Homo sapiens: one gene and its partners. The protein of the gene in region 1 purifies or fractionates together with the protein of each later gene. This does not show direct contact. Each region holds a gene or a part of one and is shown in the gene's direction. Other genes may lie near its edges.

Region 1 (3,656 bases):
TCTTCTTTCTGAGGCTCTAAGCCTTCTTCTGTTGTCATTTCCTTTCTGTTTAGAGAACTTCCTTTAGCCATTCTTTAACGATCAGTTTGCTTGCAACAGATTCTCTTAGCTTTCCTTTGTCCAAGAATGCCTGTATTTCCTCTTCATTCCTGAAGGATACCTTCACATTGTTTCAGAAGAGAAATCTACTGTCGTTTGAGTTGGTCTCCTCTCCGAGTTCATGCATTGCTCCTCTCTGGCTGCTTTGAAGAGTTTTATGTTTAGTTTTCAGAAGTTTCATTATGATTTGTCTTGGCACAGGCTTCATCCCATTTATTATATTTGGGGTTTGCTTGGCTTCTTGAATCTGTACATTTATGTCTCTTGCCAAATGTGGGAAGTTTTCAGCCATTATTTCTTGAATGACTATTTCAGTCCCTCTCTCTCATCTCCTTCTGGGACTCTGACATACGGCTGTTAGCACTTTTGTTAATGACCTCCGGGTCTCTGAGACCCTGTGGCCTTGTTGAGTGGGGTTGGAACATCAGCTCCCCTCTGGGCGTTGCTGATTCTAGGGAATGGGAGGGGGTAGCAAAGCGACAGCTAATCCAGCCTTCCCCCCTCCCACCCTCCCATCCCCTCTTTCTGCCTCGTGGTGGGGGTGCACTTCCCCACTGGGCCCTGCTGACACCACCCTGGTGAGGGAATTGGAGCACCTCCTGCTTCTTCCAGGCAGAGAATGGGAGGTGAGATCCCTGCTTGGCCCTGCCAGCACTATTTGACATGCCACTTGGAGCATGTCACCTGGTTCCTTGAGGGTAGAAGATCAATTTCCCCCTCAATTCCACTGAAACCTCAGTGGGTGGTATATGTGGTTTCTCTGCTGATGTTTTCTCTTGTATTTGTTTTTTGTTGTTGTTGAGATGGAGTTTCGCTCTTGTTGCCCGGGCTGGAGTGCAGTGGCGCAATCCTGGCTCACTGCAACCTCCGCCACCCAGGTTCAAGCGATTCTCCTGCCTCAGCCTCCCAAGTAGCTGGGACTACAGGCACGCACCACCATGCCCAGCTAATTTTTGTATTTTTAGTAGAAATGGGACTTCACCATGTTGGCCAGGCTGGTCTCGAACTCCTGACCTCAGGTGATCCACCCGCCTCGGCCTCCCAAAGTGCTGGGATTACAGGTGTGGGCCACCGCACCTGGCCTTCTCTTGTTATTTGGAATAGGACGGGCATTGCCAAAAAGGTCTGCTGTTGTAAGAGCATCCTTTTCTGGGTCCTTTGGCCAAGAACAGGCTCTTCTTGGAGTTCTTTTTCTCTGTACCTTTTGGCTGTTCCAGCTTGGAGGCTTCTGCAGCGCCCATCCTGGGTAAGTAGGAGGCAGTAAGGACACCCAGAGAACTCACTGCCTTGTCATCCCTCAAGTCCTGAGGTCGCTGGGTAGCCTGCCGCCTTCTTTCCACCTGCTTTCTGCACTTGCTGGTTGTGTTACATTCAGAACTTTCTTTTTAGCTGTAAGGGGGCAGACCTGGGAGGAGTAGAGCTGTTACTTTGTGGAAGTCTCCATCATCCTGGTCTTTTTACTCAGTGTCTGGGGCTTTTCCATCTTGATCACAGTTGTGCCTGAATTTGCACATAGGATTTCTGTTAGATAGTGCGAGGACTTCATTACCTCACTCTATCCTCTGCAGTTCATTATTTGAATCTACTAGTTGCTTTGATTTTTTTGTAAAGATTGCCAGTAAGACTTTCTAGTTTATTCTTTTTTTCTTAAACAATAATCAAGTTTATTAAACAAATTTTTTTAAGTATTATAAAATGTTTAACTTTCATCAGCTTCAAGGTTTATGCTGCTCCCAAATTTTGCATACAACTGAACTTTCAAATCTGCTCACACCCACTGAATTGCTTCGACTTTGGATTCTAAGGCGTCAGTTGCTTCTTGCAAATTTTTATTTGCTGCTTCTAACATTTCCTGTGTTTCTTCTTGAGAATGGCTAATGAAGACATCACCGATTTGATAAGGCATCATTAAGCAGTCAGCATCTGCAAGCATGGTACCGTCACGAGCATCTTCTACGTTTTGGAGTTGTTTCTGTTTTACTTCTATTTCTTCCTTCAGCTCTGTGATTCTACTTGTATTCCATGCAAATTTGTTTATCTTTTGTTGCTCTTCGAAAGTAACATTGACATCTTCTGCAGCCGTCTTCTTCATGGTGGCCACCATCTCGGGACTGGAGAACAGCATGAGACAATGGGACTTTGCCCCCAAGCGCGCTCTTGCTCCCTGTCGGCCCAGAATTCCCTGGCAAATACAACCCTGTCTCCACATTCCCTCCCCTTGGACCCATGGCCAATGATCCCTAAAAGCTGGGACACAGGGAGGAAATGTCACCTGGAAGGACTTGGTACATGCCAGTTAAAGGGACCGGCAACCCCCGTGGGCCAACATCAATGGGGGTGTGGGGAACAGCCTAGTTTATTCTTTTTATTTTTCTAATTCTACAGATGATATCTCGTCACTTCCTGACTGGGCTGTCCTTAAAGTTTGTGTATTTGGTGTTCCCGAAGTTGTGTAATAATGCCTCTGGTGGTGGGGTGTGCCTCAGGCTGTTGGAAGACATCAGGCCAGCTTAGATTTATCTCACAGTGCTTCCATTCCCTGACTTATGTGTGATGCGTTAAATCCCAAGAGCGTTTTCATTACTAAATTTCACATCCAGTTAGAAGTGGATAAAATGTTAGCTGTCTGAAGGTTCCTTGTTATATAGACTAGAAGTCCTAACCATCCACATGATTGCATTAGTGTAGCCTTTAGCCACCCCAAGGTAGACTTGTCTTATATGCAGATGTATAGTCACGCATCGCAATGTATAGTCATGCATCGCGATGCATAGTCACGCATTGCTTAACGACTGGGATCCCGTCCAGGAAATGCATCGTTAGGTGAGGTTCTTACGCAAACATCCTAGAGTGGACCTACACAAACCTAGATAATATAGCTGACCGTATACCTAGGCCTATTGCTCCCAGACTGCAAACCTGTACCGCATGTTACTATACTGAATACTGTGGGCCATTGTAGCACAATGGCAAGCATTTATGTATCTAAACATAGAAAACGTGCTGTAAAAATCTGGTGTTATAACCTTATGGGACCACCATCGTATATGTGGTTCATCTTTTACCAAAACATCATTATGCAGTGCGTGACTGTTTGGCTGATTTTAGAAACTTTTTGAAGAATTAGATGATTAGAGTGGGTGGTCTCTTGTTGCCACTGAAACAAAAAGATCAAGTTCAACAAAATCTCCACGGCATTGTGCTAGGTGCTGATGCAGAAGGGATATTCAGTGCATATTGCAGAGCCCCTACTCTCCACTCGCACTCTCAAGCTGGGGAGACAGTTGCACAAGTAACTTTAACATACAGCGTGAATGGATACCATGGTAAATGCCACTGGAGAGGTGTTGCAGGAGGCCAGTGGGAAGATTAATTCTGGCTGAGGTATCTAAAAAAGCCTTATTGAATTGTGATTTGAGCTGGCCTTTGAAGGTTTTGTAGGATTTCAGCAAGTGGAGAAGAATACACAAATGAGAACCATCTTAATGCCTCTACATTTATCAGCTAAGACAGAAAATTCGAATACATAGAGATACTAAAGAATCAGAACTTTCTAG
Region 2 (3,301 bases), on another chromosome or scaffold:
CGGTCTGTTATGTGTCTATCATTCGATGTCTTAGCTCTTCCGCAGTTGCCAACCGCAGCAAGAAGTCCCGGGCTTTGTTCCTGTCAGCTGCTGTTTTCTGCATCTTCATCATTTGCTTCGGACCCACAAACGTCCTCCTGATTGCGCATTACTCATTCCTTTCTCACACTTCCACCACAGAGGCTGCCTACTTTGCCTACCTCCTCTGTGTCTGTGTCAGCAGCATAAGCTGCTGCATCGACCCCCTAATTTACTATTACGCTTCCTCTGAGTGCCAGAGGTACGTCTACAGTATCTTATGCTGCAAAGAAAGTTCCGATCCCAGCAGTTATAACAGCAGTGGGCAGTTGATGGCAAGTAAAATGGATACCTGCTCTAGTAACCTGAATAACAGCATATACAAAAAGCTGTTAACTTAGGAAAAGGGACTGCTGGGAGGTTAAAAAGAAAAGTTTATAAAAGTGAATAACCTGAGGATTCTATTAGTCCCCACCCAAACTTTATTGATTCACCTCCTAAAACAACAGATGTACGACTTGCATACCTGCTTTTTATGGGAGCTGTCAAGCATGTATTTTTGTCAATTACCAGAAAGATAACAGGACGAGATGACGGTGTTATTCCAAGGGAATATTGCCAATGCTACAGTAATAAATGAATGTCACTTCTGGATATAGCTAGGTGACATATACATACTTACATGTGTGTATATGTAGATGTATGCACACACATATATTATTTGCAGTGCAGTATAGAATAGGCACTTTAAAACACTCTTTCCCCGCACCCCAGCAATTATGAAAATAATCTCTGATTCCCTGATTTAATATGCAAAGTCTAGGTTGGTAGAGTTTAGCCCTGAACATTTCATGGTGTTCATCAACAGTGAGAGACTCCATAGTTTGGGCTTGTACCACTTTTGCAAATAAGTGTATTTTGAAATTGTTTGACGGCAAGGTTTAAGTTATTAAGAGGTAAGACTTAGTACTATCTGTGCGTAGAAGTTCTAGTGTTTTCAATTTTAAACATATCCAAGTTTGAATTCCTAAAATTATGGAAACAGATGAAAAGCCTCTGTTTTGATATGGGTAGTATTTTTTACATTTTACACACTGTACACATAAGCCAAAACTGAGCATAAGTCCTCTAGTGAATGTAGGCTGGCTTTCAGAGTAGGCTATTCCTGAGAGCTGCATGTGTCCGCCCCCGATGGAGGACTCCAGGCAGCAGACACATGCCAGGGCCATGTCAGACACAGATTGGCCAGAAACCTTCCTGCTGAGCCTCACAGCAGTGAGACTGGGGCCACTACATTTGCTCCATCCTCCTGGGATTGGCTGTGAACTGATCATGTTTATGAGAAACTGGCAAAGCAGAATGTGATATCCTAGGAGGTAATGACCATGAAAGACTTCTCTACCCATCTTAAAAACAACGAAAGAAGGCATGGACTTCTGGATGCCCATCCACTGGGTGTAAACACATCTAGTAGTTGTTCTGAAATGTCAGTTCTGATATGGAAGCACCCATTATGCGCTGTGGCCACTCCAATAGGTGCTGAGTGTACAGAGTGGAATAAGACAGAGACCTGCCCTCAAGAGCAAAGTAGATCATGCATAGAGTGTGATGTATGTGTAATAAATATGTTTCACACAAACAAGGCCTGTCAGCTAAAGAAGTTTGAACATTTGGGTTACTATTTCTTGTGGTTATAACTTAATGAAAACAATGCAGTACAGGACATATATTTTTTAAAATAAGTCTGATTTAATTGGGCACTATTTATTTACAAATGTTTTGCTCAATAGATTGCTCAAATCAGGTTTTCTTTTAAGAATCAATCATGTCAGTCTGCTTAGAAATAACAGAAGAAAATAGAATTGACATTGAAATCTAGGAAAATTATTCTATAATTTCCATTTACTTAAGACTTAATGAGACTTTAAAAGCATTTTTTAACCTCCTAAGTATCAAGTATAGAAAATCTTCATGGAATTCACAAAGTAATTTGGAAATTAGGTTGAAACATATCTCTTATCTTACGAAAAAATGGTAGCATTTTAAACAAAATAGAAAGTTGCAAGGCAAATGTTTATTTAAAAGAGCAGGCCAGGCGCGGTGGCTCACGCCTGTAATCCCAGCACTTTGGGAGGCTGAGGCGGGTGGATCACGAGGTCAGGAGATCGAGACCATCCTGGCTAACACGGTGAAACCCGTCTCTACTAAAAATGCAAAAAAAATTAGCCGGGCGTGGTGGCAGGCACCTGTAGTCCCAGCTACTCGGGAGGCTGAGGCAGGAGACTGGCGTGAACCCAGGAGGCGGACCTTGTAGTGAGCCGAGATCGCGCCACTGTGCTCCAGCCTGGGCAACAGAGCAAGACTCCATCTCAAAAAATAAAAATAAATAAAAAATAAAAAAATAAAAGAGCAAACTATTTCCAAATACCATAGAATAACTTACATAAAAGTAATATAACTGTATTGTAAGTAGAAGCTAGCACTGGTTTTATTAATTTAGTGACTATTCATTTTATCTAAATCAGTGAAGATTTACTGTCATTGTTTATTAGTCTGTATATATTAAAATATGATATCATTAATGTACTTACAAAATAGTATGTCACTGTTTTTATGTTCATTCTTAAAAACATAACCTGTATTAATAAATGTGAACATTTGCTTGGTATCTCTTTGGAACAAATTAGTATTATATCTTTCTGGTCCTGGCACACTTTAAGGGTTTAACTGAAGAGCATTTAATGAAGAGGTGATTTACAAAGGTGTAGACAGGGTTAAGGGAACCAACGGGGACTGGTGAAGCACCCCCCAGAGACTAGCAATCAGGGGAAGCCATTACTGCCAAGGCCCAGGTACAGGAGGGAACACACTGACGCCTCTCCCTCACCCTCTGATCTCTTGGGAGGCCTCCCCTTGATCCTAATCTTAACCCAATACCCAGAGTGAAGTAGTCCATAAAGATCAGCTTCCTTTGCCGTGGAGAAGGGATCTGGAAGAACAAATGCAAGGAAAAAATAAAACAAACAGCACCATTTCTGCCAAAGACATTGAGTGATTAGCTCTCTCTCTCTCTCTCAATCCCTTCTTAAGAAAATTTAAGCTTATTGAGAATATATTCAAATTTCTGAGTTATAGACATCATGGGTAGTGTCTGCAGTTCTTCCCTAGTGAGAGAGAAATTAAATGTCAGAGCAGAAAGGAAATCCGTAAAATGGCTGTGCTGTCTTCTCTGGCTGAATGACAGTCCTTTGCTGTCTAGCACTCCCTCAGGCAGAAGGGAGGA
Region 3 (3,656 bases), on another chromosome or scaffold:
CCAAAAGATGTTGATTCTTAATAGTGGCTAATTCTTTACATTACTTAAGTCACCGTGGTAACATTCTTCTTTCTTGTCAGCATATAGGAGAGAATGAAATAGTTTTTTAAAGTATTATTTCAGATATTCTTTAGGTAAAGAAAAAATATGATGGAATCGTTCAGATTAAATAAAAGGTCAAGCCAAATTTTGAAAAATGTAACTTCTTTAATATATTATCTTACAACTTTACTACAATAGAGAGCAGATTGCAGAATTCTTTTTCTAAGCACATGTTGCTTTGCTGTGTTGGTTCATTAATCTGCTATTTACAGTGCTTCATGTGGTTTTGTCAGCATGGTTTTACATACTGGCTTTGGTATAATTCCGAAACTCAGTTTGAGTTAAACCACATTCAGCTTTTGTTTAAAAGAAGCATGTCTCTTACTTTTTGTGTATCTCCCATCTTTTTCTATTGACTTGTGCTTCAAAGTAAAACTTTTTAAACCATTTGGCAGCATACTTGCAGTAGATAGAAAATGTACTAAGGAAATAAACAGTGATTATATACAAAACCAGTCTATCCACATGTAAGGAATTAGAGCCAAAGGAAATGCTGAGAAATGTACTTACGCTTAAGAAATTGTATGTCCAGAGTAGGCCAAGGACGCTCAGGACATTGACAGGAGAGAAGAAAGTCAACTGTGGCTTAAATCTCTCAGGAACATCCTGGTTTATATAAGTAGGGATTACATCAGAAATGCTGTGTGTACTGTTCACCACTGGAGTTTTGCAGCTAGTCAAAAAACCTTATTTATGTTTACTTCATGATAAGCAATTTCTACAGGGGAGAAAAGAAAGTCAGAGAATAGGCGGTGATAAGAAAGTGGATTGAGAATAGGATATATACACTTAAAAGAGTGGTCAAGGCTAGATAAAATTATTCAAACCCTCCAGAGCTTTCACAGCTTTTATCATTGACAGTAACACAACATCAGCCACTGGTGATGGCCTTAGCTAGGCTCCGTGGGCGCTTGCCACACATGATCTTGGGGGACAGTGACTGCGGGGGGCCGGACAGGAAGAAGCAGGCTCCAGGGTGTGCTGGGTGGTAACAGCTGATGTGCCAGAACCAAGGACCAGGCAGTGTTGTTGTCCCCTCTTCTGTGTTTTGCTGCTGAATCTGGGTGAGTGGCCATCAGTGACCACTACTGAGGATCTCCATAGTTCACTGTAATCTGGCTAACATAATTTGCCTATAATGTTGTGGGCTGGTATTTTAGCTAAATGTGTACTTAACCATGATTTCATTCAGGCTTCAGTCACTCTTTCATTGTTAGGCCATAACGTCTGCCGTTCCAGGTAACATCTTAAAGAATGGTTTGCCCTTTTGCCTAGTCTGGTACTGTGGATAGATGATCAGCTCAGATCAGTGAAAATGTGAATTTCTGGAACAGTAAGGCTGATGGGAAAAATTGTATATAAAAACAATTCTCCAATGTGTTTAGATACCACCTAGATAGGAATTTCTGTTGGTTTTTTCAGTACAGCCTCAGCAGACATTTTTGTGCTCTAATTGTGATTGGTTTCTGAATTGCTCTACCCCCACCCCTGCCACCAGTAATTATATGACACATCAAATTTCAGGCACTGTGCTAAGGTTTTACATGGGGAAACTCATTTAATACTCACAACAACCCACTGAGATGGTTCTGTCCTTTGAGAGGGGCAGCTGGGATACAGAAAGGTCAAGTAACTTGTCCAGATCACATAGCTAGTAAATTGAACCTGGGAATTGAACCTGGGAAGATTGGCTTTAGAGCCCATGCTGTCAATCATTACACTATACATTCTGAATTGCTTTTTTTTTTTTTTTTTTTTTTTGAGAAGGAGTCTCTCTTTGTCGCCCAGGCTGGAGTGCAGTGGTAATATCTTGGCTCACTGCAACCTCCACCTCCCGAGTTCAGGTGATTCTCCTGCCTCAGCCTCCTGAGTAGCTGGGATTACAGGTGCCCGCCATCACACCTGGCTGATTTTTGTATTTTCAGTAGAGACGGAGTTTCGCCAAGTTGTCCAGGCTGGTCTCGAACTCCTGACCTCAAGTAATCCACTGGCCTTGGCCTCCCAAAGTGTTGGGATTACAGGCTTAAGGCACCACACCCGGGCTAAATTATTAATTTCTAGAAAGCTGTTTTGAGCTGTACTTTTTTTGAGATTGAGAGTCTCACTCTGTCGCCCAGGTTGGAGTTCAGTGGCGTGATTTTCAATCACTGCAACCTCCACCTCCTGGGCTCCATCCACCTCCTGGACTCACTGCAACCTCCCACTTCAGCCTCCTGAGTAGATGGGACTACAGACTTGCACTATGCCCAGCTAATTTTTGGCTTTTTTGTAGAGACGGGGTTTCCCCATATTGCCCAGGCGGGTCTTGAACTCCTGGACTGAAGCGATTGGCTGTTTCAGCCTCCCAAAGTGCTGGGATTATAGGCATGAGCCACAGTGCCCAGCCATGAGTTGTACTTTTTAAAGAAGTTGGTTTAGATATAGAACTAATCTAATCCTTTTGTAATGCCTAGTGGGATGTTCATGATTAAGGACCAGGTTTTTGTTTTTATTGGTTTTTTTTTCTCCCCTCCTTCCCTTTTTAATAGTAACATTTGGAAAATATTTCTAAATGTTTTGGATTACTGTGGCCAACTCTTGCATGGGGCCTGAACATTTTCAGTATCATAAATACTCTTTAGCTTTACTTTTTTCTCATAAGGGATATTTTCTTAAAAATATTTTGTTTCTCCAATGTTGCCTAATAATAAACCCATGTTATCTGTAAATATTTTTTAAGATAGAACTTTAAAGAACTTTACTTTCCAGTTTTGGAAGTTATTTCATGAACAAAATTCTTGGATGTTCAAACATTAAATCCAAATTGATATTTTATTTGTAGTGGAAGAGATGGTTGGCTTAAGAACTTTTTCTGTACTCCTCTATGGGACACCAGCCAAGACTACAGAATATTTGAATTTCCTTAAACAATAGTCTCTGTGGGACAATTGCTATGTAATCGGCCCTATGAGATGCTCAACAGCATTACTCTGAAAGGCAAAAACAAAGAAACAACAATAAAAAAACCCAACATTTTATTCTTGTGGCTTTTTTTCTCCTAGCTTTAACATTTTAGAACTATATATTGAATGCATCTATATGTTATTTGCCTTTTTCATTAACAGAGGAAACATCTTATGGTATAAAAATCTGAAATCCTAATCTCCCTTTTCAGTTGTATTTTTCTGTATGCCTCAATATTTGCAGGTTTCCCAAAAGTTCTCTTCAGTTCAGTTAAAGCATTATGATTTTGTTATGCATAGGCTAAAATGTAAGTCAAGCCAAATTTTATGTTAATAATATAGATACTGGGAAAAAAGTAACTTGATTAAGTTTGAGTTCTCTTTCCTTTTACTACATATTAGAATTTGGTGCCAAGGAAACTATTTTCAAAATTCAAAGCATTGTATTTAGAATACCTCATCTTGATAATTTTTTTTTAAAAGACAGCTGTGTTAAACTTTGACAAGTTTTTTATGTAAGGGAAGAAAATAGAAAATTTCCAAATGAAAACCTATGCCATACTTAGTATTTAAATAAGTCTTAAGAAGTGAGAGGATGATAATTTCTCATGT

What was found.
Region 2: the proteins of GNA12 (region 1) and F2R purify together in Homo sapiens (affinity purification with western blotting, with the first as the bait; one study listed by BioGRID). This does not show direct contact.
Region 3: the proteins of GNA12 (region 1) and ARHGEF28 purify together in Homo sapiens (affinity purification with western blotting, with the first as the bait; one study listed by BioGRID). This does not show direct contact.

Annotation. Positions count from the first base shown.
Region 1 is NC_000007.14:2,834,168-2,837,823, reverse strand, and holds part of GNA12 (guanine nucleotide-binding protein subunit alpha-12), read left to right. Parts: intron 1-3,656. UniProt on the Homo sapiens protein: Guanine nucleotide-binding proteins (G proteins) are involved as modulators or transducers in various transmembrane signaling systems. Activates effector molecule RhoA by binding and activating RhoGEFs (ARHGEF12/LARG).
Region 2 is NC_000005.10:76,733,085-76,736,385, forward strand, and holds the end of F2R (proteinase-activated receptor 1 isoform 1 precursor), read left to right. Parts: coding exon 1-419; 3' UTR 420-2,686; downstream 2,687-3,301. UniProt on the Homo sapiens protein: High affinity receptor that binds the activated thrombin, leading to calcium release from intracellular stores.
Region 3 is NC_000005.10:73,912,552-73,916,207, forward strand, and holds part of ARHGEF28 (rho guanine nucleotide exchange factor 28), read left to right. Parts: intron 1-3,656. UniProt on the Homo sapiens protein: Functions as a RHOA-specific guanine nucleotide exchange factor regulating signaling pathways downstream of integrins and growth factor receptors. Functions in axonal branching, synapse formation and dendritic morphogenesis.